Regions from separate parts of the Homo sapiens genome. Here region 1 is linked to region 2. The links come from fine-mapping of genetic effects on gene expression. A gene starts in region 2. The other region holds a variant in brackets. All regions are shown on one strand. Distances are from middle to middle. Region 1 overlaps CISD2 (CDGSH iron sulfur domain 2). Region 2 holds the start of CISD2 (CDGSH iron sulfur domain 2).

Region 1 (15,510 bases), 29 kb before region 2:
GTCTCTACAAAAAATACAAAAAAATTAGTCAGGTGTGTTGGCACGCACTTGTAGTCACAGCTACTTGGGGGCTGAGGCAGGAGGATTGCTTGAACTCAGGAGGTTGAGGCTGCAATGAGCTGAGGTCACACCACTTCACTCCAGCTTGGGTGACAAAATGAGACCCTGTCTCCAAAAAAAAAAAAAGTAAAGTAAAATAGAGACACATTGATTTTTTAAAAAATACTTTTCCTACCTTGCCACTCACTCCATCACACAAATGCACATTTATTGTTTTTAATTACACATTTATTTGTATTCTATTTGGTTAATGGCTAAATCCCTGCCCCTGCCCCCTTGATAGACTACGTAAGGACAGGGACAGTGTCTGGTTGTTGCAGTTGTTTTTCATTATTTCTCCCTGGCACTTAACACAGTGCCTGACATGCAGGAGCCAAATGTGTATTGCATGCCTGCAAGAATGAATGAACAGAAAGGGAAACCTTGTAATTTTGCCCTCTTATTCAAGGATATTCTCCTCCTCCTAAAATATATTGCTACTTATTGTTAGACTGTTTAACTTGGCAGCATAATATACCTTAATTTCCTGTGGCTCTTTTCTTAGTTGTTATTCCAAAACAGAAGCTCCTAAATTTTCATGCAAAAAAAACCTCTATTATCATGTTAGAAAAGCAGGTTCATAGGGCCTGACTACCTGTTTTGAATACCATGTTACTTGCCTATAACCTCAGGAAAATTATTTTCTAATCTCTCAGTCCTTCAGTGTTCTCATCTTACAATGAAGTCTATGACTGTATCTGTTTCTTAGCAGTGTTGTCAGGATTCAATGAGATAATCCACGTAAAGTGCTTAGCACTCTCTCTGGCATATGGTGGTGCTCAATTAACAATGTTGTTATTTTATCTTACCTTCAAGTAATATAAATAATAACTTTTTATTTTTAATGTCTACTGTAGGGAATAATAAATCTACAAAAGGAGTATCTGTTCTCTCTCCTTCCAACAATACTCTCGCAATTTTGTTTTATTATTTCATAATTTTCATAAAGCAGGGAAAAAAGAAAAGCAGGTATGAGGAAAGAGACCACTCACTCGAGTCCTGCAGTATTATTCTGCTTCTGCCTATTCCTGTCTGCTGGCTTCAGGCTAGCTTCTACACAAAGAATATCAAGCTGGTTCCAGGAACTGGCAAGACATAAAAAATTAATTATTTATACAAGTAGAGTCACAACAGCAATAATAGATAACGATAATGTCACAAGTAAATAAGATCAACAAATATTTAAATTTCAATTTTAAATTATTTTCACCTTTATCCTCTTCCACCGTTCTCTGCTGCTAACATAAAATTGGCTAAGGTTCAGCTCTTTCTCTTGTTCTTCAGTTTCGAGTTACTGATAAAAATTAGAGTGGAAAAATGAAGCTATTAGGAGAGTAAATAAATAATTTAGTTTACAAATGTAAGATCAGCTTGGCAATTGGATTCTTTTAAAGAAATAATATTAAATCTCAGTCACTAGGAGGAAATCATTTATCATCTAATAAAGTCCTCACATAATAAGGTTGTCGTAAGAATTAAATGAATTGATAAATGGAAAGCTTTAAGAATGATACCTGCCATATGATGAATGCCATATAACTATATAAATATTATTTCTAGTTTCACCATTATCATAATCATCTCTTAAAAGTCAATGGGTTTGGTTTTTGTTTTTTGTTTTTTCTGTTGGAAGTTCTTTTATGTTCAAATCCTCTTCTAAACTGTAAGATTCTTTCAAGTTGGTTTTCTGCATGATTATCTTTTTCTCCCTAGCATCCTCCAGCACACTGGCTCACGTTCAGTACATTAAAAGTTACGATATAAAAATGATACCATTTTAAATTATTGATTTAGGATATAGAAATTGATCTTAAATTGAGGGGTTCTTTTGCCATAATGTTCCATATCAGAGGTAATGTTTCCACCATTATGTTGTTACTTTGCAACTCCATAGAAAATATGTTATATATTGGTATTTAATTCCCCAAAATTTTAAGGCAATTTCATGCCTAGATTATTAAACACAAAGAAAGAGGGTTAGCAAGAAATTTGCTTTATGTTATTAAAAATAATGTGGTAGAAGGTGACTAGGGAAAAAAACTTGTGACCCAGTACAGTCATTCTAAAACGAAAACTTCAAAGGAACTCATTCTCTGACCTGGCAGGGCATGAGGAGTGAGGGAGAGAGAAACTTACTACTATCTGAATACCTACTGTGTGCCAGCTGTTCTTTGCATTCTCATATTTAATTTTCACAACCATTCAGTAAGATAAGTATTTTGTTCTTCATTTTACACATAAGTAAGTAGAAGGTTAGAGAGTGTGAGTCATTTGTACAAGGTCACTAGCCTGGTTGCAGCAAAAATAGAATTCAAACCCGGTTTGCTAGATTCCAAGCCTGCTGTCAGTTCTGCTATAACACAGTGCCCCCTGAATAGGGAGAACAATGAGAAGAAGGGCAACAAATCCTAGAGAACCATAAGAAACCTTAGTATTTTATGTTGTCTTGTTGTAGTCAAGAACCACTTGCACACGGTAAAGGCAACTAAGCAAAACTGGTTTCGTTAGAACTCCTGGTGTTATGAGGGCAACATGAACACTCAAAAGAGATATTCGAATAGAGGAACACTGAGAGGACAAGAGTGCAAAATCAGCCCAAAAATGTTTGCCTGCTGATTTGTCACTATTGTACTCTTCCTCCACATATATTTGCTAGGAAGAACATGGAACTGATGAGTAACTTATGAAAATTACTGAGTACTTTTTTTTTCTAATAGTCTAGTACTAGATTTTGTTTATTTTAACAGAGCCATTTACATTATATATCAACTCAGTTTAATATTTTTCTTTATGCCCCATTTTTACCCCTAAATGCAGGCTGTGTTAGGTCCTCTGGCTCTAGAAACAGCAAGAGTCTCCGCACCCCACTTGGAACCATATGCGAAGGATGTGATGACAGTAGCATTTTTAGCCATCTTGATCACAGCTCCAAATGGAGCTCTACTTATGGGCATTCTGGGGCCTAAAATGCTTACACGCCATTATGATCCAAGCAAAATAAAACTGCAGTTGTCAACATTAGAACATCATTAAAAAGTTTACCTGTCATCATCTGCCTGCTTCTTTTAATGAATTATTTCACATGACAGAAGAATTTTAAAGTAGAAATATGTGGGGACTGTACAGAGAATCCAGGATTTAGTAAACATGTGATTTCAGTACAGGGCTTTTCTTGGACTTTTTACTCCAAAGTTAATTTAATAAAAATAATATTAAATGGAATGCTCTCTTGGTATTTACATACTGTAAGAACAAATTAAATCTGTAAATACCCTAGGAAAGTTTAAAGTAATCCCTCAGGCTGAATTTGATATCATAATACAAACTGAGCTTAATATAAAATTAAACAAACTTAATGGCAGAAAGAAAAACTTTGAATATTGAACTTGGTAAGATAGCCTAAGTTTCCAAATAGAAGGAGTAGAACTCCCATGATGTCCAGTAATTCAGTTAAAAAGATCACCACAAAAAGAAAGAAAAGGAATAAAACACATCAACTTTAAATGGGTTAACTAAATAGATTTTAAATTCTGGTTTTGGTGACTACCTGAGTAAATAATATGTTCAGTAATAGAACCAAGTTAGTCTTTCCTTACTTCTGCCATGCCCTTAAAATGAAAGTCTGGTTTAGCAGTTTTTAGATGAAACACTATCTATATTTTTATTTATAGAAATAAAATTAAATCACAAATGGAAGTAAACTATATTTTTTTCAATTAGTATTTTAAAATCTAGGCATAAAAGGCAGCCTCCAAAAATGAAAGATTTGGAGACTGCTGTCATGTGGCAGTTTCTTCTCCTTAGTAATATAGAATTACCTTTTAATTCTGGCTGATTAAATCTGCCATGTTAATGTAGAACCCATCACAAGCAAAGTGAGTTTTAATTAACTTCAAGACTCTTTATTTTAAAGTTATAAGAGTCATATAAACGATTCTAAAATGGCCTTATTGAATGGCATCTTAGAAATTGTTTAGACTTCTTTGGCAAAAGCTCAATGCAAGGACTGAATATTACTTTCATTCCTCTTTTTCCTCTTCTCCACAAGCAAGGTATTAAAATACCACAGAATATGACATTTACACATAAATTTGCCAAGTGAAGCAATTAAAATTTAAGGCAATCAAAACTATGTGTTATTCCTATTAAGACTAAGGGCTTTTACAGAATATATCACCGAAACTGCCAGAAGTTCTAAAACCTTCTGGGAAATAACTCTTAGAAAATACACTCTGGGAGAATAACTCTGGGAAAAGATAAAATAGCTACTATTTTAGTGACATTTTCTCCTTATAGTTTTACAACAAAGTACAGACTCCATTTTCAAATATTGTAATTCTAGTACTCAAATTCTAAAAATTTAAACTGTGCCAGTGTTTTGACTACTATTTAAATCATGAGGGCATCTCATTGTCACTTACAAGAAAATAAAAATATAAGCAGGGTGTTGTGGCTCATGCCTGTAATCCCAGCACTTTGGGAGGCCGACATGGGCAGATCACGAGGTCAGGAGTTCGAGACCAACCTGACCAACATGGTGAAACCCCGTCTCTACTAAAAATACAAAAATTTGTCAGGTGTGGTGGCGCACACCTGTAATCCCAGCTACTCAGAAGGCTAAGGCAGGAGAATCGCTTGAACCCAGGAGGCAGAGGTTGCAGTGAGCTGAGATCGCACCACTGCACTCCAGCCTGGGAGACAGAGCAAGACTCTGTCTCAAAAAATAATAATAATAAAATATATATATATATATTTACAAGATAGTATTTTACATTCACAAGAGGATTAGATTTCAAAGTAGAAAGTTTATTTTAATAAAAGAGAGATAAATAATTTTCAAAATGAGGAATTGTGTTATTGATTAGGAGGAAAATTGTTGTAACTATTCTTTTTATTCTTTATTTATTGAACTTTCTCTAAGTGTCTGTGATATATGTTTATTATACTGAAATAGTCGCCCTTTTAAGGTGGTGTGGCAGATGTTGTTATTTATTTGAAATTTTAAGTTTTTTATTTATAAAAAGTTTTTATAAAAATTTATTAATATAATTTAAAAATTACAACCAGTTAACCATGTGTATGATATTAGTGTTTATAGTATTTAAACAAATAAGGCTGGGCACAGTGGCTCACACCATCCCAGCACTTTGGGAGGCCAAGGCGGGTGGATCATGAGGTCAGGGGAGGGAGACCATCCTGGCTAACATGGTGAAATACAAAAATACAAATAACAAAAAAAATAAAAATACAAAAAACTAGCCAGGCGTGGTGGCAGGTGCCTGTAGTCCCGGCTACTCGGGAGGCTGAGGCAGGAGAATCACTTGAACCTGGGAGGCAAAGGTTGCAGTGAGCCAAGATCACGCCACTGCACTCCGGCCTGGGTGACAGAGCGAGACTCCGTCTCAAAAAAATAAAATAACAAATAAATACAAGATTGTTGTTTCTTATCAACTTTTTGTATCTTTGCCTATTTTTTTCACTGTTTAAGGAATTTTTATTAAAGCAAAATTTTATAATCCAAATTACCTTTCCTTGCTCAGTTATCAATTCTGTTACTTAAAACAGAAGTGACATTCTGAGCTATTCCACACTAACGAATTACAAAATTAAAGGAATGCTTTAAATTTTTATACTTTGCTGAAAATTATTTATCACAGAGTCTGAAAAGCATTGCAGCATTTTTATATTTTATTATTTTGGGAGGATTTTTTGTTTTCAAATCAGTAAGTAATCTAGGACTATCATTGCATTTGTTAGATCTGACGTTTGCTTGGTATGTAAAGTTCAAAGTTTCCTTTTTAAATTTATTTTATACTTTACAAATTTTTTCCATAGTATTTAAGGTTTTTGATATTGAGATTTTTTCTTCAGTGATGCGCAAGTTTCTTTCTGTGGTCCCTGATCAGTTTTAAATAATTGGAACACCAGTGGCACCATTAACTGCTTTCTGGGCAGCCTCTTTAGCTTGGTGGTCTTGTGGTACAGCTATACCTTTGTCAACCTTAGTACAGCGAGGCTCTGGAGATTCAAGCATATGAAGAAGTTCTAAATAACCAATCTCCAACAACATGCCAATGATTTTACCAGCACGACTAGGGCATGGCTTGAAGAAGAGGAAAGAGCCATTCACTCGTTTGCTTTTGCTTTTGAGGAGGAGCAGATGCCATCATGGAAGTCAAAGGTTCTTGACCTTCTACATGAACAGCAGGCTGCTGCACGGTAACTTGGGGCTGTGCATGAAACTGCCATTGAGGATTGTGAACTTCCATAGCATATTTATACTGTGAAATGGTGCAAACAGCAGGAGTATCTGTAGTAGCAGTAGCGGCAACTGCAGAATGTGCTCCTATTGTCTGTGTTGATGTGTTACAACAGCTGTGTTGACATGACTCGTGGAAGCTGTGAAGAAGCTGGTCTCTTACTACTAAATGTAGTGAGCTAGGAGTGGCTTGGGCATATTTTTCAATGGATGAGGTCTGGCACCCTGAGCAATTTAGGGAGGATTTGATCTTAGTTGAGCAGTTTGGCTAGGAGAATACTTTGCAGCATGGCTGTCAGTCTGTGGGATAACTACCATGAAGTAAATTGAAGAAGGTGCTGGCTGATAGAGGCTGATTCCCAGGTTGAGCATAGTTTTTACACTTGCCATTCTTTGCACATACTGTACTGGTTAATGAGCTGAGCCTGGTGCTCTTCATTGCTCTTCTTCCCATGGAGTTAATGCTATATACAATGGCTCAGTGCCCACAATTCTACCATTCATTTCTGAAAGTGCTTTAGTTGCTTCCTCTGGAGAGGAGAAACATACACAAATCAAACCCTTTGTTGTGACAACCATCCTTCATAACCTTTGCATTAGTGATTGTACCAAGTGGAGAAAGTTCTTTCCAGAGACATTCATCAATACCATCAAGATTTTTTGCATAAATGTTAACACTTTGTTATCTGGTGATCCTATACTGCTTGATCTTTTCAAATTTGCACACAAGTTCCATCTGCCATTCTACTTCTTTCTGAGCTTGACCAACATCAATTTGTTTTCCATTGAGCTTCTTTCTGTTCATCTCATCTGCGCATCTTTATGCCTTTCAAAGCTGACAAATCCAAAACCTTTGGGTTTTCCACTTTCATTAACCACTACTTTCACACTTAAGACAGATCCCAACTTGCCAAAGAGATCTTTAAGGCACCTACCATCCATGTCTTCTCCAAAAATCTTCCTGTAAACATTGGTGAACTTTTTAACTCTGAGTTCTGCTTCTCATTGTTTACAAGACTTAATCCAACAAAGACTTTGCTGTCATTTAGAAGCATCCATTTCATTTTTTAATAGAACTTTCAGCTGCTTCTGTGTCTCAATATGTACAATGCCATCACCCTTGAAACCATTTTCACCACAAAGCACCTAATGTGAAAGTGATAGAGACAGGAGGCAACCAAGGGTCCCCCGGTAAAACCCCACCTTCAAGACTAAAACAGCCTGAAGGCTGTTAGATAAACTGGACTGCGGGTCCTGGTTGAAGCCGCCCTTTCCCCACTGATTCTGAATAATGCCCACCTGTGCACTGGGATTACGGGGTGGAGCCTCGGGAAGTTTGTGCAGTGTTTATTTTTTCAATTACTAAAAATGAATTGTTAAAATCTCTCACTATGTTTGTGGATTTTTTTATTGCTCTTTCCAGTTCTAATTTTGGCTTTATTTATTTTGAGACTACATTATTAGGTATCCACAATTTTATAAAAATTAAGAAAAAATTAGAAAAGTTTAGAAAAAAGTGAGAAAAATATAGAAAAAGATGTGACAGAAGCACACATGGGCTTTATCTGGATGATCTCGTCAGGTTTGTATCCTGGGGAAGGCCTTCACAGCAAGAGATGGACCAGAGGATTGAGGCAAGGGGGCCACCACTCAGAAGGGGAGGAGGGCAAAGGAACTCCTGAGGGAGGAAAGGATCAGAGAGGAGGCTTTCATGTCTCAGTGATATCACTCAGCAGCATGGCATGGAGTCTATAGTTCACAGAGTTCCAAAGAGCAGAAGCAGCCTGGGGTCTTTACAGCCTAGGGTTTATCTGTGGCAGGCAGATTTTGGACACAGTTTCCCAGGGCATGTAAATCAGGCAGGCTCTAAATGCCTACAAATCTGCATGTCTGGGCAATGTTTAACACAATTGGATGTTTAAAAATTTGAGTTTGCTGCCAGTTGGCTTTTGAGCTAATGGGTCTCAGCTTGCTGTGAAGAAATAACCTAGGCACCAATACACAGAGGCCATCCTTGTCTCATTTACATTATATGTAGTGACTCTATCCTTTTTTGCTCACAATTGTTTTACTCATTTCTTTTAGATTTGTTTACTGAGATTATTTGGTAGGTAAGATTTCAGTTTATTATAGTTTGCTAATTCATTATTCAAAGTGCTCTACTAAAAATTTTGCTCCATCCTTAGTCCCCATTTAAACAAAACTGCTGTGGGTAAGGTCATCATTGGCCTTCGTGTTATCAAATCTGTTTTATTAACAAAATTTTAATGTTTAAAATTTTCTTATGTGTACACATTTAATTTATGTAATTTTAAAATGGGGTATCATACATGGAATTTGGTAGTTTTCTTTCCTTTTTTTGTTCACTACTCTGTTTCTTAATGCTTTATTATAACCCACAAGGCAATGTCCCCAATATTTATTATGTATAACTGATATTCACATAAAACATATTTTGTCATTAAGTGTTACCTTTTTCCACATAGGTGTTCCTGTTCTTTAGTCTTCTATTTTCTTTCTCTTCTGCTTCTCTCCCACCCTTCCTGTCTCCATTTATGTACGTATTTAAATCATTTAAAAAATCATTTTATGTGTCACTTCAAAGCCTTCAGTGTAAATTGAGGGTCCAATTTTGTTTTCTTTGAATTGTTTATTTTCATATATTAATTTTTCATCTACATGTAGATTCTCAATTTTTTACCACTCTTGCTTATTCTTAATACAATTGTTTTTCTTAATTGATCAATTCCAATAGTTCTATAGTAGGTGCTGATATCTGCTGAGAAAAGTTCCTCTCAATAGTCTTTTTTTTGGAACAATTTTCTGACTATTCTTCTACATGAACTTTAAGATAATTTAATCCAATTTTAAAATGCTTTTGTGATTCTAATGTGAATTTAATTGAATTTATATATAATTTTAGATTTATGTTTTTACAAGAGTTTTGTTTGTTTTTTTGAGACAGGGTCTTACTTTGTCACCCAGGCTGGAGTGCAGTGGTGGGATCTCAGCTCACTGAAGCCCCAACCTCCCACCTCAGCCTCCCAAGTACCTGGTTCTATAAGCATGCGCCAAGCCCAACTAGCTTTTTGTTTTGGTTAGAGATAGCGTTTCACAATTTGCCCAAGCTGGTTTTGAACTCCTGGGCTCAAGCAGTCCTCCTGCCTCAGCCTCCCAAAGTGCTGAGATTACAGGTATGAGCCACTGCGCCTAGCCTCATGTGTTTCTTATTCAGTAGCTTTTGGTAACATTTTTATAGTTTTTTTCTTATAGATCTTCTACCTTTCTTGGTAAATTTATTTTACCTTTATTATTTTTGTTATTGTGAATATTTTTACCACTAGCATTTCAAGGTGCTTATTGCTAATATATTTTGTATTATCATCTTATTTCCAAATAACTTACCAATATTCCTCTTTAAAATATTTGAAATTTCTGTTTTTCCTAATCTCTATGATTTCCTAGGCATATAATCATATCCACAAAAAGTTTTCTATATATTTATACTGATTATTTCATTTAAAAATCTTGTTACATTCATGGATCCTCCAAGATAATCTTTAATAACAAATAATGACAGCAGCTATTCCTACTGGTTCCTTGTTTTAATTGAAACGTTGTTTCATGATTTAAAATACTTGTTTTGTAGGCGTTTCATAAATAACGGTTATGTTTAGACACTTTCCTTCAATTTCTATTTTACTCAAGAATCTTCATTAGGAGTGGATGTTTAATCTTAACAATAGCCCTCTCAGCATTTATTGATATAATCACATTTTTCTCTTCTTTGATGTCATTTATGTAATTGTGTTAATATACTTAACTGATATTGAAATACCCATGAATTCCTGAAATACAGTGCTCTTTGCATACTGTATTACTCTTTTTTGTTGTTGCAATTATTGATAACAGTGCTGGGTTTTTATTTAGAATATTCATTCATATGTATGTCAGATTGGTCTATAGTTTTGGTTTTTTTGTTTGTTTTTTTGTTTTGAGATGGAGACTTGCTCTGTCACCCAGGCTGGAGTGCAGTGGCGTGATCTCGGCTCACTGCAACCTCTGCCTCCTGGGTTCAAGCTGGGATTACAGGCATGCACCACCATGCCAGGCTAATTTTTGTATTTTTAGTAGAGATGGGGTTTCGCCATATTGTCCAGGCTGGTCTTGAACTCCTGACCTTAAGTGATCCACCCACCTTGGCTTCCCAAAGTGCTGGGATTACAGGTGTAAGCCACTGCACCTGGCCTACAGTTTTGTCTTATGTTTATCAGGTTTTCATATTAATGCTGCACTGCCTATGTGAAATGAATTGGTTTTTCTTTTTAAAAAAAATTTGGGATACTTTAAATAACATTGGAATTATCCTTCTTGCAACCCTAGTACTTTTTAAATTATGGATTTTAAAAAATCACTTTACATTCTCTTCTTTGTAACTGGTCTATTAACATTTTAAATTTCTTCTTGGATTAGTTTTGGTCATTTATATTTTTCCAGAAAATTACCCATTTTCTCTAGATTTTCCAATGTGTTGCTAAATAGTTGCATGCAGCATTTCAAAGTGAATCTTTCTTTTTTCTTTTTCTTTTTTTTTTTTTTTTTTTTTTTTGAGATGGAGTCTTGCTCTGTGGCCCAGGCTGGAATGCAATGGCACAACCTTGGCGCACTGCAACCTCTGCCTCCTGGATTCAAGCGATTCTTCCACCTCAGCCTCCCGAGTAGCTGGGATTACAGGCATCCGCCATCATGCCCAGCTAATTTTTATATTTTTGTAGAGACGAGTTTTCACGATGTTGGCCAGGCTGGTCTTGAACTCCTGACCTTAGGCGATCTGCCCGCCTTGGCCTCCCAAAGTGCTGGAATTAATTACAGGTGTGAGCCACCGCACCTGGCCCTCAAAGAGAATCTTTCTACCTTCATCTTATTTTACTTCTTGGTAGCATTCTATAGGGTTGAAGATTGTACTTGTGAGTTTTGAGTTTCTTAATTTGTTGAATGGATGTGATTAATTTATATCTTTAGTGTGATCATGCAGAGAAATTTATGAGGGATAGTAATGGAAAAATTACAGGAAATCTGAAAATTTAATAAACTTGACATTTTTATTTTCTCACTAGTACAGGGTTATCTCTAATTATGAAATGTACTACCCTTTTCTCCTTTTCTGTATTATTTTGGAAAATTACAGCCTTATAATAGAGATCAGAAATGTGTTAACATTATGGCTGATCTATCTGACAACAGTGTTCTAAGAAAACAGTATCACAAATATACTTTCTCACCATAGTTGTTCAAAACAGAAGTTTTGTAAGCGAAGAATCAAGCATTTAAACCAAAGGAAAGTTAGAGTGATGTCATCTCTGGTTGAAAAACATAGTCTTTCTGAACAGATTTTCAATGTCCTTCAAGACCATAACTAATATAAAATTAAACAGTACAATTGCTAATAATATAAGCTGTACACTTTTTATATTAAAGTGATGCTTGCTACAACATGACTTTACTAAATTGGATTTCTGCAAAAGATAAAACACCAGGCATGGTTGCTCATGCCTGCAATCCCAGCACTTTGGGAGTGCTGAGGCAGGGAGGATCACTTGAGTCCAGGACTTCGAGACCAGCCTGGGTAACACAGTGAGACTCTGTCTCTTAGAAAAATAAAAAATTAGCCGGGCATGATGAAGCATGACTGTAGTCTCAGCTACTTGGGAGGCTGAGGTGGGAGGATC[G/A]CTTGAGCACAAGAGGCTGAGGCTGCAGTGAGCTACGATCATGCCCCCGCACTCCAGCCTGGGTGACAGGGCCAGACTTTGTCTCAAAATATATGAAAGTAGATAAAATTAGTTTACTTGCTGAACATGATCAAATATAGCAAGTTTCCAGTAAAAGACTATTAGGACAAACTATGTTAACACAACCTCAGATGATGAAGCATAGTTAAAACAAAACAAAACAGCTTTGGGCATATTCTATACTCCAACCTCTGTGGTGCAAAGGGACTATATGGCCAACCGGATGTTGAGGGAGTCACAGAACTGCTGCACATGTGGTTTTTAAACATGATTTTTAATTCCCCCTAAAGTGGAAGAAGTCATCTAACAAAATTTATTATGACTTAAATTGCTACTGCTTTATTTAGTTTTCCTCAAACTTTAACAAAATAAATAATTATGTAGTAAATTATAGTCATTAAGCTTGAAAAATGTTTCAATTGAATGGGAAAACTTCCTGTGATAAAGCCTCCAATCATCGAGTAAGTCAATATATTTTACATATAAATTTTCCAACATGTTAAGCACTAAGCTTTTAACTAAATAGCTAAGGGGAAATTGTTACCACCAAATGCAACACATATCCTGCCTTTTTGAATAACACATACTACTTATCTTGATTCCAATTCATCACTAAACATCACTTGTATAATTTGATCACAGTGATGTCCTCAGAGACAGTTGTATGCAGAATCCTATAAATTGTCTCAAGCTGCTATGCCTTTAATGTTCACCTTAAATTTATTTTTGTTCCCCTGACTTGCTGTCAGCTGTCACATTTTGTAGTTCACCCCTTCTGCAAGACCCTTTTGATACTTGTGATTTGTTAAGAAGCAGAAATCAGATAACCAAACTTGTTAGAATTCAATGTGAAGTAAGAATAAGTAGACTCTGGGTAGCTGCTGCCTCTACCATTAAAAATTTTTTAAAAAGAAGACTTTTTCAATTACCACTTAATTTGAACTTGACTTACCTAGACTACTATTAGTCGATATTAGTTTAACAGAGGGAAAATTGTTAATAAAGTAGATGTAATATGTAAACACATACATCATTTCCTTGTTCTGGATCTATCAATGATTTCATACTTTGACTATATCTAAATTATCTGCTTTTCCCAGCCTTCAAAGTGGTCTTTAATTCACCCCTGCTTTCCATGGGTTAAATTTCCTACAATGCTGAGATATTTATATTGGTTTCCTCCTGTCCTACGAACTTCGTACTGATTTCTGCCACAATAAATTTGATTAGATGAAAAAAAAAAAAGACTTTTTTTTTTTTTAAGATAGGGTTTCACTTCTGTTGCCCAGGCTGGAGTGCAGTGGCACAATCTTGGCTCACTGCAACCTTGGCCTCCTCAACTCAAGAGATTCTTGTGCCTCAGCCTCCCGAGTAACTGGGACTACTGGTGCGCCACTGTGCCCGGCTAATTTTTGCATTTTTCTGTAGAGATGAGATCTCACCACGTTGCCCAAGCTGGTATGGTACTCCTGAGATCAAGTACTCCACCCACCTCAGCCTCCCAAAGTGCTGAGATTACAGGTGTGTCGTCACTGCACCAAGCCAATGAGGCACTCATTTCTGAATAAAGTACAAGCATTAGTAACATCTCCCCTGGTCTCTCCAGATTGGTTATGCTGCCACAACTGAATTCTAAATGGGTTAAGTATTATACAATTACTTAGGCTTCTTTGGTAGGTATCAAATAAAACATCCACCTAAATTCTTAAGAACCTTGTTAAATAGTGGCATTTACAAACTCTCTATACAGATTCTGACAGCACATTTCTATTGGAAGACTATGGAATCACAATGAGGAAGGTAGTACTATATAGATCAGCAGCTGGCTTAATTGGCTTCCTGTAACTTACTTATTAACAAATTAGGTTACAAAATACAAAGTCAACTTAATGAATCATCGTATTTGGCATTGAACTCAAAGCTGAATTGTGTGAATTGTGAGGTGCTTTCCATAATTCAACTTGCTTAATTACCCATATGAATGAATCATTCATACCTCAAGCCTGCTAACACTTTTGGATACCTGATGTTTATGTAATAGTGATGTTCATTTGCTGAGTAAGGCATGAGTAGTTTCCTAGGTAAGCAGAAGCAGTCCTCAAAACAATCATGTGACGCAGTAACAACAGGGCTGTATTTTGAAGGCTCTAGAAACCGAAGACATGTATTTCAAGAGCCAAGTTACTTTTTTTTTTCTTTTACCACTTATCCTCAAGTTCTACAAGTTACTTACACTGCATCAATTCAAATACATTTGGTTATTAGATGTCTATTTTTTAAAGATGGACAAGATAAAATTGTGTAAATTTACAAGAAGTAATGCAAACTGCTAATAATGCTTATTTAAAGGAGTTATTAAAGCAACAGCTTACTACCAACCCTACGCTTCTGAAAAATGTGCACAGGTGGGAAAAGATATGGGCATAGCTCTTAGCATATTTTAACAACTGAAAATGTGGCAGGGAAAAAGTCTTTATTCTGAGAGTACAACCATCTTACTTTTGGGGTATTAAAATTACCTTTTATGAGATAATTCATTTTCAATGTTATTTGACAAAATTCAAAGTTGGTCATTCATTTTAGTCTCCTCATTTTTAGTAAATTTGCCTCCTGTAAAATCTAAGTTATGGGAACCACTAGAACATGTGTGAAAACAAGTTGCTGTGAGATGCAGTGATAGATTTTACAAAAAGAAGAGCATTTCATGAACACAGATCAGGATATCCAAAATTTTGGTGAGGTGGATTTTTTCCAAAGTCTGGTGACCAACTGTGGAAAAATAATTGGTTAATCTGACAGTGAGGCCCCTTAACAGTGTTGAAGAAAATGTATCCGAAAAAGCACCCAGAGTCAAAGAAGTGAGAGCAATGCTGTATTTATCCCCCACTGACATGTGAGGAAAGAACAATTTTGGACATACACCTTGTAAAACTTCTCAAAAACCAGACTACATTTCTAACTCTAAAATACATGCTGCTGGTCATGAAGATGTTACGATCATATAATTGAACCTACTGACATTACATGTAATAAATTAAAAACCCAAGTACCATGCTTAGTGTAGTGTCTGGTACATACAAGTGCCCAATAACAATTAGTTTTATTTCTAGAAGGATTACCTCTGTCTGCCTCTTGTACATTCTTATAAAAAGAAAGCAAAGTGAACTGAATAAACTGTATCTTAAATAGACTAAAGAAAAGCTTTTGTATTTGTCTTTTCTCAACTAAGCAGTTTCCAGAGTGCCTAGCAAGGTCTCAGAAACGCACTCAGTGAAGGGAGTTAAATGGTAACTCTTTTACAACAGAAAGGATTCCCTACAGAGCCCAGCAGAGGCGGAGCACTAGGTTGCCCAGCCTGGCCTT
Region 2 (16,206 bases):
ATAATGACAGTGTAAGTTAAAATACAGGAAGACTACTTAAAATATTTAAGAAAAAAACTTTCAGCACCTTCTAAAATTGTAATACCTCACTCACATGTATCAGGTGGTGGGACAGGTACTGAAGATACAAAAATTATAAAACACACTCCCTGTTAGAAAGGAGCTTGCCATTTAGTATGGAAGACAGACCTATAAAAGACGATCATAATACTGTGTACTATCAGCAATAATACAGAAGCAACGCAGAGGTACAAGTTATTCACTTTTTACTGGCATGAGCAAAAACTGTACAGGTTTTGATACTTAAATAGGTTTCTGAAAGATGAAGAGTACAGAAGTTCATGGGAATATGGGAGGAGGAGCTTCATTCCATGCAGAGGAAGCTGCATAGGCAAAGGTACGGAGATATGACATGCATTAAGTGTCTGGGAAACTAAGCACCATAGTATTGTTAGAATTTAATGAAAGGGAGCTGTAGAACTGAGCAGGTGCCGTATGATGACAAACTCTGATATTCAACAGGTAAGTAAGAATCTAACCTGTGCATAATAGGAAACCACTGAAATATTTGAATATTAGCCTAACTAGGAAATTGTTCACCTATGAAGTCACTCTGGTATCAGATGGAAGATGGATTAGAGGGCCACAGGAATAGCAGAGAGGGCTAGTGGAAGAAGACAAGGCAAGACAACCTGTTGAAAATCCATGGAAATGGTCTGGAAGAAAATAGTTTGAGATAAAACTAAGGTAGTGGCCATTAAAGCAGAGAAGAGAGAACAAATGTGAGCAGTAGTCTCTACTAGGATTCCCTAAACTGCAGAGAACAATGTGTTCGTGCTTGCATTTTCGTTTTCTTTTTTAGCTTAAAACAACAGAAACGTATTCACTCACAGTTCTAGTGGCGAGAAGTCCAAAATCAAGGTGTCAGCATGGTTGATTCTTTCTGGAGGATCTGAGGGAGAAGCTGTGGTGTCCCTTAGCTTGTAGGTCTATCACCCCAATCTCTGCCTCCATCTTCACATGGTGTTCTCCCTTTGTGTGTGCCCAAATTTCCTTTTTAAAATATTTTAATATAATTTCGACTTTTATTTTAGGTTGAGGAGGTAAATGTGCAGGTTTGTCATATGGGTATATTGTGTGATGCTGAGGTTTGGGATATGGCTGATCCTCCCACCTAGGTAGTGAGGATAGTACCCAATAGTCTTCAACCCTTGACCTCCTGCCTCCCTCCCCTTTAGCAGTTCCCAGTGTCTACTGTTGCCATCTTCATGTCCATGAATACACAATGTTTAGCTCCCAGTTGTAAGAATATGTGTTATTTGGTTTTCTGTTTCTGTGTTAATCTCCTTAGGATAATGGTCTCCAGCTGCATCCATATTGCTGCAAAGGATAAGATTTTGTTCATTTTTCTGTTTTGCCAATTTTTTTTTTTTTTTGAAGACAGAGTCTTACTCTGTTGCCCAGGCTGGAGTGCAGTGGCACGATCTCAGCTTACTGTGACCTCTGCCTCCTGGGTTCAAGCGATTCTCCTGCCTTGGCCTCCTGAGTAGCTGAGAATACAAGTGTGCACTACCACACCCGGCTAATTTTTGCATTTTTAGTAGAGACGGGGTTTCACCATGTTGGCCAGGCTAGTTTCGTACTCCCAACCTCAAGTGATCTGCCTGCCTCAGCCTTCCAAAGCGGTGGGATTAAAGGCATGAGCCACACCGTACCTGGCCTGTTTTGCCAATTTTTAAATGTGAGTTGTTCATCTTCTTATTGAGCTCAATACTGAGCAAGGACCTAATATACATATTGACTTTTACATCCCTTTTTTTTTTTTTTTTTTTTTGAGACGGTTTCGCTCTGCTGCCTAGGCTGGAATGTAGTGCCACGACTCAAGCAATTCTCTTGCCTCAGCCTTCCACGTATCCCACTATTAAGATAAATAACAGGACCAAAAAGGAAGAATGAAAGAACCAGCACCATCAGAGAAACAAAATCTAGGCCACTCACAGTGCCTCACACCTATAATTTCAGCACTTTGGGAGGCTGAGGTGAGTGGATAGCTTAAGCTCAGGAGCTCAAGACCAGCCTGGGCAACATGGCAAAACCCCGTCTCTAAAATAAGATACAAAAAAATGAGCCAGGTGTGGTAGCGTGCACCTGTAGTACCAGCTACTCAAGAGGTTGAGGTGGGAGGATGGCTTGAGCTTGTGAAGTCAAGGCTGCAATGAGTGGGTAGAGATCATGCCACCTGCACTCCAGCCTGGGCAACAGAGTGAAACCCTTTCTCACAAAAGAAAACCAAAATCTAGTCAGAAAAGAAAATTTCAAAGCAACTTGAATAGCTGATTTGGTCAGGCTTTGTGTCCCCACTGAAATCTCATCTTGAATTATAATCCCCATAATCTCGTGCCAAGGGAAAGACCAGGTGGAGGTAATTGGATTATGGGTGTGGTATCCCCCATGCTGTTCTGGTGATAGTGAGTGAGTTCTCATGATATCTGATGGTTTTATAAGGGGCTCTTCCTCCTTTGCTCGGCACTACTTCCTGCCATGATGTGAAGAAGGTGCCTTGTTTCCCCTTCGCCTTCCGCCATGATTGTACGTTTCCTAAGGCCTCCCCAGCCATGCTGAACTGTGAGTGGATTAAACCTCTTTCCTTTATAAATTACCCAGTCTTGCGTAGTTCTTTATAGCAGTATGAAAACGGAATAATACGGTAGCTACCAATTTTAGCATAAATTTTCTGAAAGTTTAGACATTGTCAAAATGAAGTATCTTCTTTGGGAAACAAAATTAGGTTTAACCTTTTATTATATATAGTGACACAGGCTAGCTATGACACCTATTCCTTATGACATATAAATACTATTATTAAAACATTTTTTAATAATAGCTAAAAATGACATAAAATGACATAAAAATGACATAGACAAACTCCGATCTTAATGAGGAATTACATTCCACAGAACTAGAACAGAATTTTTCCATTTCAAATTTTCAAACATCTACATATAATATAGCCATATCATCTTATGATACCATAAAAATAATACTGGCAGCTTGGTTGCTAGTTATTTTATAACATATTTTCTCATTTATCATATGTAGCTAAACACAGAAATTATTTCTATTTCTTAACTGTAGAAAAGATAAAATATTTTCAATGCATGAGTTTACTATTACCACTTAAAACCTAAGGTAGGGCTGGGCGCAGTGGCTCACACCTGTAATCCCAGCACTTTGGGCGGCCGAGGCAGACGGATTACCTGAGGTCAGGAGTTCAAGACCAGACTGGCCAACATGGTGAAACTCCGTCTCTACTAAAAATACAAAAAATTAGCCAGGCATGGTGGCACATGCCTGTAGTCCCGGCTACTTAGGAGGCTGAGGCATAAGCATCGCTTGAACCCAGGAGGCAGAGGTTGCAGTGAGCCGACACTGCACTCCAGTGTGGGCAAAAGAGACTCCCTCTCAAAAAACAAAACAAAACAAAAACCTAAGTTAAACATAAATTAGATAATCACAGTAATTTATCTTGAACGCCTCACTCTTGAAAATGTGACATAAACAAAGATAGTTAAGTTGTTTCTGATAGGTGAGAACTGCCTGTATTTAACTAGTATATGGTCATTAAAGATCTCCATGTGGTTTCTAAGAATGCAGAGTCATCATAAGAGAGTCAATAGCTTTAAAAAACAGCTAGATTTAAATAGGGAAGGAAATGTAGGCAATAATAATGTGAACTGTATTGTTTTTTGCTCTAATTTTCATAGAAGAAAATGGAAATATTTTTTGGTCTCCTAGACATTTTAAACAATTGCTAAAAAGTTGTCTTCCAGGTTTTTATTTTAACAAAAGTGTACATTATGGATTCTACAAGTAACTCATTTAAGAAAGCCAAATGTCATTAACTGTTACAATCTATTCAGAATGGGAGACCGAGAGTGGAAAATAGCCACTGAAATTTTTCTTCTATAGTACTCCAAAATAAACCCTGCAATTGTTTTGTCCAATCCAAAAAGGGCTATCTCATGTTTTTCATAAACCAGTTATTACAAGCATGTTCATGTTTCCTAAATAAACCAGCAATAAAATGAGAACTATTAACTATAGCCACACTGTAATGGGACTTAAGTTAAATGTATGTTATTAAAATACTTCTCAGAATGGTCATTATTTCTGAGAATCAGTCTTCATATTAAATATTTAACAACTTTTAAGAGGAAGTTACTATATATTCTTAAGAGAGAAAAGGTTTTGGTTGAGTTTTCTTAATGTCTTTAATAGGAATTAAATATTTGTTGACACTAGGGATCCTCAAGAAAAGAAAGCATACTTCTAAAATCTAGCCATTAAATCTAGTTTCATACTTTCTAATTTTCTTCAATTATACTTGATTTACAGAGAATCGAAACTAATACAAATGCAGCCACCATCTGGAAAAAACATAGGTAATTCATTGGACATTTTCCTTTCTTGACTGTTAAAAATTCCTCAACAGTTAACTTATGCAAATTAGTAAGAAGGTACAAATGTCAAAATGACAAAAGGGTACAAAAGTCACAATATGATCATACCGTTTTGGCCTGGTATTGCTATTTAAGTGAAGACATCCAAAAGGGAGAAATATGACAACTGGTATTTGCTTACTTGCCAATGAACTATTACATAATGAATTTTAAAAAATAGAAACATTTCTAATTTCCAGTTGTAAGGGAATGAATGGTTAGGCCCATTGTGATGTTAAAACTAAAATAAGTATTTAGTTGTTAGGGAAAAAATGAGGATTATATTAAAATATGTAAAGTACTTAAGTAAAAGAAGTGGGGAAAGCCAAAATTTTATGGAATTGCTGCAATTCTGTCAGAGTAAACTGGTAGGATCAAAAGATCTGATGTTTATAAACACTTGATGTGAAACGTTTTTCATTTTATTTTACTTTTGCATTGCTTCTGATGTTTAATGTTCCTTTTTAATGTTTATTATTGTTACCATGCTTTCTATTCAATTGCATGTTTTCTACTAAAACTCTTAATATTTAAAAAATATTAAAATCTCACAATCCACTCAACAGAGCGTCTGTCTGACCATAATTCAATGAATCTCTAGATTTGGAAGAGAATTTGTCATCTAGTTTATCCCTTCTAAATCTATCGACCACCCACCACCAGAGTCTTTTTGTTTGTTTTTTTCATCTTTGAGAGGGGCTATCACTGAAGCACCACATTTGTTTGGGGAAAGCATTCTTTAATTTAAAAAAAAATCTTCCTTAGACTGAAATTCACCTCCCAATAACCTTCACTAATTTGGTTAATTTGTTATCAGTTCTATATTTTAGTCTACACAAATCTTATTTTTCTTCTACCAGACAGCTGTGCGATTGCTGTATTTTAGGTCAGGTACTACAGATCTTTAGAACGTTCCCGGCGAAGCAACCCTATTTACCTCAGAATTATCTTAATTCATGTTTGCACTCCCTGATAACCTAGGACATAGGAGTTCAATACTTGCTGATTCCTTCACCATCCTACTCGGTCTGAGTTCCGTTTAGAAATATCCCCCTTACAATGAAATGCTCATAACTCAACACAATCTCCCAAGTGTTGACTGCATTCTGGAGATTTTCATCCTTTAGATGTGAAATCCTCATGAGTTGTGTGGGTTAAGTGAGGGTCCTTAAGTATAGAACGTTACATATATTCACTAAATTTCATTTTCTAAGATTTCACTCCTCATACCGGCCTTCGAATACTTTCTTGGGTAAGGTATCTTTCTTCCAACTTAAGTTACCGCAGCGGGCCCCGGGACCGTAGAAACGGAGATGACCTCAAATGCCACCTATGATAGGTCAATTCTAACCTGAGGGAATGGAGGTTATCTCCTAATTTCGTTACTAAATAAAACGGTCATATACGTGTTACGTGTAAGTCTATATTTCTCTCCCACACACTCCCACCCACATGCTGAGGGTACAACCCAGCCGGTAGCTGGGGCTGCCTGTTACATGAGGCCTTAGATAACGACGACTTAGCCCGCTTTAAAATAAACAAGTACGCTACAGAGAGCGATGAGCAGGACAGGAGATGAAAGAGACTGGCCTGTTCCCAACTCAGCACCTTCTCTGCAAAAACCTGGTATCTTGCCACGGAATGACACCGGAGACAACTCCGAGGACAAAAGACCCTGGGGCATCAAGCACCCGGAGACTGCCTCACAGGCGTTCCCCAGGCAGCTGCGTCGGCGCGCGCCCACCTTCCTCTGCGCGCGGGGATCACGTGCCAGGCGCCGAGCTCCGTCCCGCCCCTTGGCCCTAGGATTTTTACGCCTCCTTCCCCCGCTTGGCGAACGTGCAAGGATGGGGACTGGCTGATGGGGGAGGATTACCTGTGAGCCTAGCGAACCCGGTAATGCTTTCAGGGACTGGGAGCCGCTTCAGATATGCAGGGAGCTGCACCTTCACGATACGGGCCACGCTCTCCAGCACCATCCTGGCCAGCGGCGTCCACTCCTCTCCCGAGCCCCCTCCGCTCTGGCCAAGCTGCCGCGCCTGCGCCGGGAGCGGAAGCGGCCGGCGGGCACTGGCGGCCTCGGCCTGGGCGGCGGGCGGGGCGGCGGGCCCTGGGAGGAGAGGTGACCTGCCGGGCGCCGATTGGCGGCGGGCGAGTGACGTACGCTCGCGGCGGACTGCCGAGGCGCGGGAACTGGCGGGTAGCGAGGCCCTCCTCGGAATCTCGTGTGAAGGTGGCCCTCCTCTTGGGCCTTTAACGTCTGTAGATGCTGGAGACCAGCAGAAAGGATACTGTGTGCGATGAGATAAGCATGTGAGAATGCTTTCTAACCGAAAGTGCCTTTCAAAAGTGAGTCTCTTGCTGTCTCTACTTCGTCCCCTCTCGCCCCGCCTCTTCCCCTACAGTTTGGGTGCTGTGGCCCTAGGGTTGCATACTCGCCCATGAGTATCCTCCCCCTACCCAGACCCCAGTGCCTAATTTTACTCCTTCACCCAAAGGCCAGGCTTAAAAAAATAAAAATTAAAATATTTTAACTAAACCAGGAACTGTTTACATCTCTGCCCCTTGGCAACTTAACTGCAGCCCTAGCTCCAAAAACCTCTGGTTTTTGCCACTCAGAGAAGATTCGTAGTAGTCCTTCCTTAGATATTTTCAGTTCCTTTTCCTTCGGGAAAGTGGTAAAAGAATCCAAAGCTGGCCGGGCGCGGTGGCTCACGTCTGTAATCCCAGCACTTAGGGAGGCCGAGGCGGGTGGATCACGAGGTCAGGAGTTCGAGGCCAGCCAGGTCAAGATGGTGAAACCCCGTCTCTACTAAAAATAGAAAAATTAGCCGGGCGCGGTGGCAGGTGCCTGTCCCAGCTACTCGGGAGACTGAGGCAGGAGAATCGCTTGAACCAGGGAGGCGGAGGTTGCAGTGAGCCGAGAATGTGCCACTGCACTCTAGCCTGGGAGACAGAGCAAGACTCCGTCACAAAAAAAAAAAAAAAAAAGAATCTAAAGCCTTATGTATGGTTTTCTTTATGTTACAAGGCTTCTGCTGAAGTCTAGCGCAGGGGGTCCTTATGGCTTCCCTAGGCCACACTGGAAGAAGAATTGTCTTGGGCCACACATAAATACACTAACACTAATGGTAGCTAATGAGCTAAAAAAAAATTTTTTTTCATAAAGTTTTAAGAAAGTTTACAGATTTGCATTGAGTGGCATTCAAAGCCATCCTGTTGGGCAAGCTTGATCTTGAAGGTTTTAATTTTGTTGTTGTTGTTGTTGTTACAAGGTTTCGCTCTATCGCCCAGGCTGTAGTGCAGTGGTCAGATCATAGCTCACCGCAGACTCTAACTCCGGCTTAAGGGATCCTTCTGCCTCAGCCTTCCAAGTAGCTGGGTTTACAGGCGTGTGCTGCCACACCCAACGAATTTTAAAAATTTTTGTGTGTATGTAGATGGAGTCCCATTATATCGCCCAGGCTGGATAGTTGTTTTTATTAATATCTCTAAAAGATTTGAAGGGTAAGAGGAGAAAATTTCACTCCCTTGAAATAACTTTCTTGCTATGACTTTGTTTCATATTTTGGCTGAAGTCAAAATGTCCGAAGTTGTGCACTTGCTGATTGGATAATGTGTGTGATATCTTAATAATATGCCTCATTATTTACAGTTCTACACTTAACAACATATAATAACGAACTGCTAATGGTCCAGTATTTCATTGTGTATGACAGTGTAACAGCCAGTTATAATAAATACTTTCCATTTTTCCCCTTGGTATTTTTATTTTACAGTGAGAAAAGGAAGGAATTTTTTAAAGCAATCTTTCATTCTCTGGACTGTATAAATTTAGTGTTTGTGATTGTCCTTCACTAAAAAAGAATATCAGTAATAGAGTTGACCAAAATCTAGATTAAATAATTTTCTATCATTATAATTGTTCAAAATTGTTAAAGTAAAACTTACAATGGAAATTCTACAAACACGTTTAGATACAGGTTCATGTTTTTGAGCTAGGGCAGTATAGAAGATGGTGTATACAAAGTGATGTTTAAAAGGTTGATGGGATTTCCTTTAGAGAGAGTTTGGAGGTAAACCCTGGAGCTTTTTTATCCTGAAGATGATGGAACTTGAATATCCTTGTCCTCTGGACTATTCTGTTAACTGTTATCTTTAATCTCTGTGGATCTAATGTAGAAGCACCCTTGGGTACAACTAGATACCCTAGTTGAGGTAGGGGTAGGTTGGAAGTGGGGTACATTAGGAAAAGAAAATCTGGAAAAGGCCATTACCTATTCGTTTCTTCTCTTAGAGGATCTGTCATCTTGACAAGGGCAAGACGTGCTGTGTTGAGTTTAATTTTTCCCCTTGGTATTTTAAAGTGAGAAAAGGAAAGAATTTTTTTAAAGCAACTTTACATTCTCTGGACTGTATAAATTTAATGTTTGTGATTGTTGTGCATTAAGAATAAGACCTCCAAGCAGTTTTTCTTTAAAGAATTAAAAAATACATACCTCAATTTAAAGATATAGTAAAATGCTCAAATGCCAAATGTACAGTTCCAGGTAACCACCACCCACATCAATATACAGAATGTTCAATAGAGGCGTTTTTAAAAAGCGACCCTTCCAACCACATCCACCACCATTACTACTATTCTGTATTGCTGTGCATGTTTTTGACCCTCACATATAAGTAATTTTACAGTATGTAATTTTTTATGGTTGGCTTACTTCCTCTTAGCAGTTTATGTGAATAGCTGGTTTGCTATTTTCAAGTAGAAAAAATGTAGTGAATGCAAGTCTATATGGATAAAACTTTTTTGGGAGGCCTTGAAATTCAGAGAAAAGGTGTGGATCATATATTAGGTATTCTGATGCATTACATGAGCTATGCGAATGTGTAATAGGAGATAATTCCTAACTCCACCAATTTAAAAATCCTTATTATCCACTTAAAAGGAATATTTTCTTAAATTCCCTTTACTTAAAATTTAAATCCTGTTTTCATTTATATTTGTATTTCATTTCCACAACCCTGCCTTCTTGGCTGCACATGAAACATGGTCTAAAGATAATATTGCTCTAAATAGATGTAATAGGCTTATCTGACCACCTTATGCGATAGTGTTTTTAGACTCCATCTTTAAAAGACATAAAGAAACTGTGGTCAGAAAACTCAAGATAAATATGTAAATACAGTTAAAGGAGTCATTATTTACTTTCAAGCACTTGAGCTTGGATCACTCATCTTCTGCCTGTCCTAGCTAGGCCCAAGACTTTTATTTCTTTCATGTTTTTTTCCCATTAGGTCATCCAGTGCCCCAAATTCAAATATGATCGTTAAGATATAGCCCAAATCTCTATTTCCAGCCCAGATTTCTTTAGGCTAATCTTAATTCTAGGAGTCTAATTCCAAATGCCTACTAGTCTGCTCTTGACATCTTTGCCCACTGTGCTATTGGTTTGTTCATCAGTTTCACTGGTACATGTTTTCTGGAAAATATTACCTTGTTGGTTACATTGGTTGCTTATCTTTTCCTGTTGCTTATCTTCTCCTAGTGTATGTCTTTTTTTTTTTTTTTTTTGGTTGAGACAGAGTCTCTGTTGCCCAGGCTGGAGTGCAATGGCGCGATCTCAGCTCACTACAACCTCTGCCTCCCAGGTTCAAGTGATCCTCCTGCCTCAGCCTTCCATGTAGCTGGGACTACAGGCGCCCGCCACCACTCCCGGCTAATTTTTGTATTTTTAGTAGAGACGAGGTTTCACCATATTTGCCAGGCTGGTCTTGAACTCCTGACCTCATGATCCACCTGCCTCTGCCTCCCAAAGTGCTGGGATTACAGGCGTGAGCCACCGTGCCTGGCCGTGTATGTCTGTTTTTATACTGAAATTTGGTTTGGGTGTAGTCAAATTTATTCATCTTTTTCTTTACAATTTGTGTTCTGGGAGTCTTGTTTAAGAAATCTTTTTCTACCCCTAAATCACAAAGGTATTCACCTGTGTTTTTGCTAAAAGTTTTAAACTTATATTCTTCATATTAGGGCTTTACTCAACCCAGTACTTACTTTTTGTGCATGAGAAAGGGATCTACTCTCATTTGTTATTATTTTACATACAGACAACTATGTTCTAGCACCATTTATTGAAGAGTTAAACTTGTTTTTGTGGTTTGTAATGTCACTTATCTCAAATCAGGTTTCCACACATCCTGGGTTGCTTATTCTCTTCCATTGCTGTATTTGTATAACCTCTATAACAATACCATACTGTCATAATTGCTACAACTATATAAGTAAGTGTTAATATCTAGCAAGATAAGCTTCCCCACCTGTTTTCTTCAAATTGCATTGTGAATGCCTGGCCTTGTTACTACTCTATGAATTTCAGAGTCCTCTTGTCAAGTTGTATGAAAAACTTAACTTTTTACTGAAAATTAATTAGGGCCTCAGTTTTCTTCTCTTTGATATGGTGATACCAGTGGTTATGACTAGATACAATTAATTTTGTAATATACTCAATGAATGGTTATTATCATTATCGTCTTTACCATCAATGAATGACCCTTTACTCTGGCTTTCAGACCTTAAATTCAGCAATTTTACTGGTGACCACAATCTCACATTCTGGTACATTTTTACTGCCACTAAACATCCTTTGATTTAGTTTTGAAACCCTGTCTTTTTCTGCTCTGTCAGCCCATTCCTGGATAAATTGGGAAGTCAAGATAGGTTTGCCAATTTTTTATTTGGTCAAGAAAGGGCATTTAATAACAATATAACAAAACACTACTACTGTCTACTTACTGCAAGGAATTACATACAGCATTATAGTTAAGACTGTAGACTCTTGGAGCCACACTGTTTAGACTACAATTCTGATTCTACTAGGATAAATTATATAACCTGTAAAAATGTAGGTAATACCTACATCTTAAGGTTGTGTTGTGTATATTCACTGAATTAAGACATAGATAGCAATTAAAACAGTACCTGGCACATATACATGCATAGTTAGTATGATATTTCATCTTCATCATTTTTTTTACCTCATTATCAACTCATCTTTTTTATTATTAGCTGCACCTTGTTTTTTTCACAGTGGTTGGTCTAGATCTACATGATCAATGTAATTATGTAATGTGTCAATACTAATAACATGGCTATTGAGTATGTAAGATTGTTACTAATATAAAATGCTTAAGGAACCCCATGCAGATTTCTGGAGCTCTTTCTCTAGATGTGGTTTGTTTGACCCCTCCAAGTCTCATATTGAAATTTGATCCCAGCTGGGCACGGTGACCCACGTCTGTAATCCCAGCACTTTGGGAGGCTGAGCTGGGCAGATCACTTGAGACCAGGAGTTCAAGACCAGCCTGGCCAACATGGTGAAACCCCATCTCTACTAAAAATACAAAAATTAGCCAGGTGTGGTAGCACATACCTGTAACCCCAGCTACTCAGGTGGCTGAGGCATGAGAATCACTTGAACCCGGGAGATGGAGGTTGCAGTGAGCTGAGATTGTACCACTGCAACCAGCCTGGGTCACAGAGTGAGACTGTCTCAAAAAAGAAAAAGAAATTTGATCCCCAATGTTGTTGGTAGGGCCTAGTGGGAGGTGTTTGGGTCATAGGGGTGGTTCCCTCCTGAATGGTTTGGTATAGTCCTTGTGATAATTAGTTCTTACTCTGTTCGCTCCTGTGAGAGGTAGTTGTTAAAAAGAGCCTGGGGCCGGGCTCGGTGGCTCACGCCTGTAATCCCGGCACTTTGGGAGGCCAAGGTGGGTGGCTCACCTGACGTCAGGAGTTCGAGACCAGACTGGCCAACATAGTGAAACCCCATCTCTACTAAAAATACAAAAATTAGCTGGGTGTGGTGGCACACACCTGTAATCCCAGCTACTTGGGAGGCTGAGGCAGGAGAATCGCTTGATCCTGGGAGACGGAGGTTGCTATGAGCCAAGATTGTGCCACTGCACTCCAGCATGGGCCACAGAGTGAGACTCTGTCTCAAAAAAAGAAAAAAAAAACAAAGAAAAACAAAGAAGCCTGGGCATACCCATACCCCTCACTTCTGGCCTTTCTCTCTCACCATGTGAACTGTGTATTCATGGGTTCCTCTTGCCTTCTGCCCTCAGTGTAAGCAGTCTGAAGATTTCACAAGAAGCAGATACTGGCATCATGCTTCTTGTACAGCCTGCAGAACCATGAGCCAAATAAACCTCTTATTTAAATAAATGACCCAACCTCAGGTATTCCTTTACAGCAACCCAAACAGACTGAGACACATACTACAAAAGTTAAATGTACTGGACTTCTTAACAGTAGCTCTGGTAGTTAAAGGGCAATTCTTAAAATATCTGAAGAAAAACTACCTATAATTTAGAATTCTATACCAATCCAAACCAAGAACCCATTGTGAAACTACAATAAACTCATTTTCAAACCTAAAAGGTTTAAAAAATACACAATCTACGCATTCTCTTCTCAGAAAGCTAATAGAGGATGTGTTCCACCTAAATGAGGAATAAACTAAGAAAAAGTAGGACATTTGATCAAGGTATAAGAAACCCAAAATAAGAGAAAGGTAAAAGGAATCACAGATTGATGGATTGGAAAAGTAGATGAAATTAATGGAACAACTAATATGCTTTAACAAATTAAAAGGATACTTACAGTGGACTATAGGTTGGGGTTAAAATAATGATTATCATATGAGAAACTAATCAATTTTTTTAAAAAAAGAATTATTATTAAATCTGTCTATTCAACATTTTAAAGAGATAAACTTTTTTTATTAGAACATTTTGATTTTGGTGTTTGGTGTTCTTACTTCCCCTTTGTGTATGAGGAACTACATTTGGAACTGCCTTGCCTTAACCCCACAGTTTTAAGAGGAAGTCCAGCAAACTAGAAATAAATGGAAAACTAAAGAAACAAAACTGGGATCTATAAATCAATAACATGGCGAAACTATTTTGAAATCACCTTCCATAACACTTTGTGGTACTAAAAACTAACAGTATATAGAATTATCTATATAGCCAAGGTGGGAGGATCACCTCAGGCCAGGAGTTTAAGGTTACAGTGAGGTATGATTATGCCTCTGCACCCCAGCCTGAGCAACAGAGTGAGACCCTGTCAGTCAATCCATAATAAATAAATAAACAAGCAAACACATGATAGAATAGAGTGAGCTCTGAAGAAAGCTTCTCTTTTCTATAATTCTGTAAGTGTATACTGACATACCACTTTTGCAGTCATTGACTAGACAAAAGATTATGGTTACAAAGCACATATATGATATACATAATTGTATATGCATATGTGCATAATTAAAAGCTTAATTCCATAGATCTTTGAAGTTTCTTTTGCTATTTTGGAAGCCATCTTTTTTGCCTTAGAAATTCCATGGTTACTGTAATCTATAAATATAGTCATTAAATAATAAAATAACAAGGCAGATTCTTATTACCTCAGAAGTTTATGGAACTAGCTACTCCAAGCACCGATGAACTAGGCATGAAGAAGGAACCTGCATAATGCTTTGCGATATTGTAGTTGTGCACAGAATAAATGTGAGATTTAATAATGTTACTTTATATATTTAACTGTTTATATTTTGCCTCTGAGCTACTAAACTCAGAGATAGCATTCTGTGTGAAATAATACTATTCAGATTAAAGGCACCCTGACTGACATCAGCAAGTTGGTGGATTAGTAGGTTCCAGCCCTCAAACCCCTGCAGAAATACCAAATACCATTTTGGGAGCCTGGGAGACCTGCTAAGAGGTTCCAGCACCCCAGTAGAATGAAAAACTCAAGAATAGACACATTGAAGAGGGTAAGAAAAACAGTTTCACTTTACCTACATCCTTCTCCTCCAAGGCAGCAGAGTTCAGTGCCAAGAGAGGCCCTTTTGGCCCATGAGTTCTCCCAGGAAGGAAAGTAAGAGTCAAGTGAGTGCCCAGCTTCCCTAGCCTTGCGTGTTGCCGCCCAAAAGGCTCACTTCTGTTTTTCCCTATCCAGAATACTGAGGGACTCTTCACAGATGAATAGTCTAGGAATATCTAGGAGAAGGGAAAAGAAGCAGAGGCTTATAGCAACCAACACATGATTCTTCAGAGCTAGATGTGGAGTCTCCTAACTGGCTTGCAGACTCCACCATAGGCTCACCCATGAGCCCTACAGGACACTTCACCTGCAGAACCCCTCAACTGACAAGCACACCCAGCACTCCATGCACCCACCCACTAGCCAGCAGCCCAACCTCCCCTGCAGATAGTGTATGCAGGCCCCAGCAGATAGCACACAGATATCAGCAACTGGCTCCTGCTGGATTGGAAGAAAGCACACAACCTTGAACACTCTGAGGCACTGCACTAGAGAAAATAAAAGGAGGTTCTCAGCACATAGTCTAGCTTTGTGAGATTGAAAGAAAGCACACAATCCTAAGACTTCCCCTCCCAAGACAGAACAAGAGGAATGGAATGGGCATATCATAGAAAAGGTCTGAGAGACCTTCAGAATCTCTAGTCAGGCTGACTGGTGAACGTCTTTCCCTTCTGAAGCTAGTCAGTAAAGACTGGAGGAAGTGACTCTTTCTTCAGATGCAAAGTTAGAAGACAAGGCTTAAAAGAACACACACACACACACATACACACACACACACACACCAGGAAAACATGACAACCAAAGGAATAAATTAAAGTTCTAGCAGTTGAACACACACACACACACACCAAGAAAACATGACAACCAAAGGAACAAATTAAAGTTCTAGCAGTTGACCCCAAAGAAACAGAGACCTATAAATTACCTGATAAAGAATTCAGAACACTCACCTTGAATCTCAGTGAGCTAAACGAAATCAGGAAAACAATACATGAACAAATGAGAATTTCAACAAAGAAACCACTAAACAATCAAATTCTGGCTGGGCGCGGTGGCTCACGCCTGTAATCCCAGTGCTTTGGGAGGCCGAGGCGTGTGGATCATGAGGTTAGGAGATCGAGACCATCCTGGCTAACATGGTGAAACGCCGTCTCTACTAAAATTACAAAAAAAATTAGCCAGGAGTGGTGGTGGGTGCCTGTAGTCCCAGCTACTCAGGAGGCTGAGGCAGGAGAATGGTGTGAACCCGGGAGGCAGAGCTTGCAGTGAGCTGAGATCACGCCACTGCACTCCAGCCTGGGTGACAGAGCGAGACTCCATATCAAAAAAAAAAAACAAATCAAATTCTGAAACTAAAGAACACAATAACTGAACTGAAAAATTCAAAAGTGAGCTTCAGTGGCAGATTGAATCAAGCAGAAGGAAGAATCAATGAACTTGAAGACAGATCATTTGATATTATCCAGTCAAAGGAACAAAGAGGAAAAATAATAAAGTAAGCCTACAGGACTCTAAACCAATATGCGCATTATAGAAGTGGTAGAGCAAGCAGAGAAAGAGAAAGGAGGCAGATTGCTTATTTAAAGAAATAATAGCAGAAAACTGCCCAAATCTGGGGAGGAAAATGAACATCCAGATCCACAATTCCCAAAGAATTCCATGTAGGTTGAACATAAAGATGTCTTCATTGATCTTTTTGTGGTTCATAAGCATGATGATTGGGTTTTCATACCATTGTGTAAGATGTGCCTTTCTCAGACCTTGCCAAAACACTGGCACATTACCTGTCTGATATGAAAATTTTTTCACTGAGACACATTATGATCAAAT

Evidence for each region. PIP is the estimated chance that this variant, and not a neighbour inherited with it, causes the effect.
Region 1: its variant is the best candidate, but not a certain one, in a credible set for the expression of CISD2 in whole blood (INTERVAL, PIP 0.82).

The regions. Positions count from the first base shown.
Region 1 is chr4:102,888,739-102,904,248 of GRCh38, reverse strand. It overlaps CISD2 (CDGSH iron sulfur domain 2), which reads right to left. Exons shown (of 3, transcript NM_001008388.5): 3 at 11,442-15,510. It overlaps SLC9B1 (solute carrier family 9 member B1), which reads left to right. Exons shown (of 12, transcript NM_139173.4): 12 at 2,917-3,321. The coding sequence ends at 3,132. It also overlaps the pseudogene PABPC1P7. Among named protein-coding and RNA genes, the nearest start is that of CISD2, 28 kb to the right of the region's middle. The variant G/A (reference allele first, on the strand shown) is at 12,088.
Region 2 is chr4:102,859,357-102,875,562 of GRCh38, reverse strand. It overlaps CISD2 (CDGSH iron sulfur domain 2), which reads right to left and starts at 6,571. Exons shown (of 3, transcript NM_001008388.5): 1 at 6,376-6,571. The coding sequence starts at 6,478. LOC124900903 (small nucleolar RNA U13) reads left to right here and starts at 16,067; the gene lies at 16,067-16,170. It also overlaps a transcript of UBE2D3 not described here. RefSeq lists silencers at 6,311-6,430, 6,461-6,750 and an enhancer at 6,981-7,120.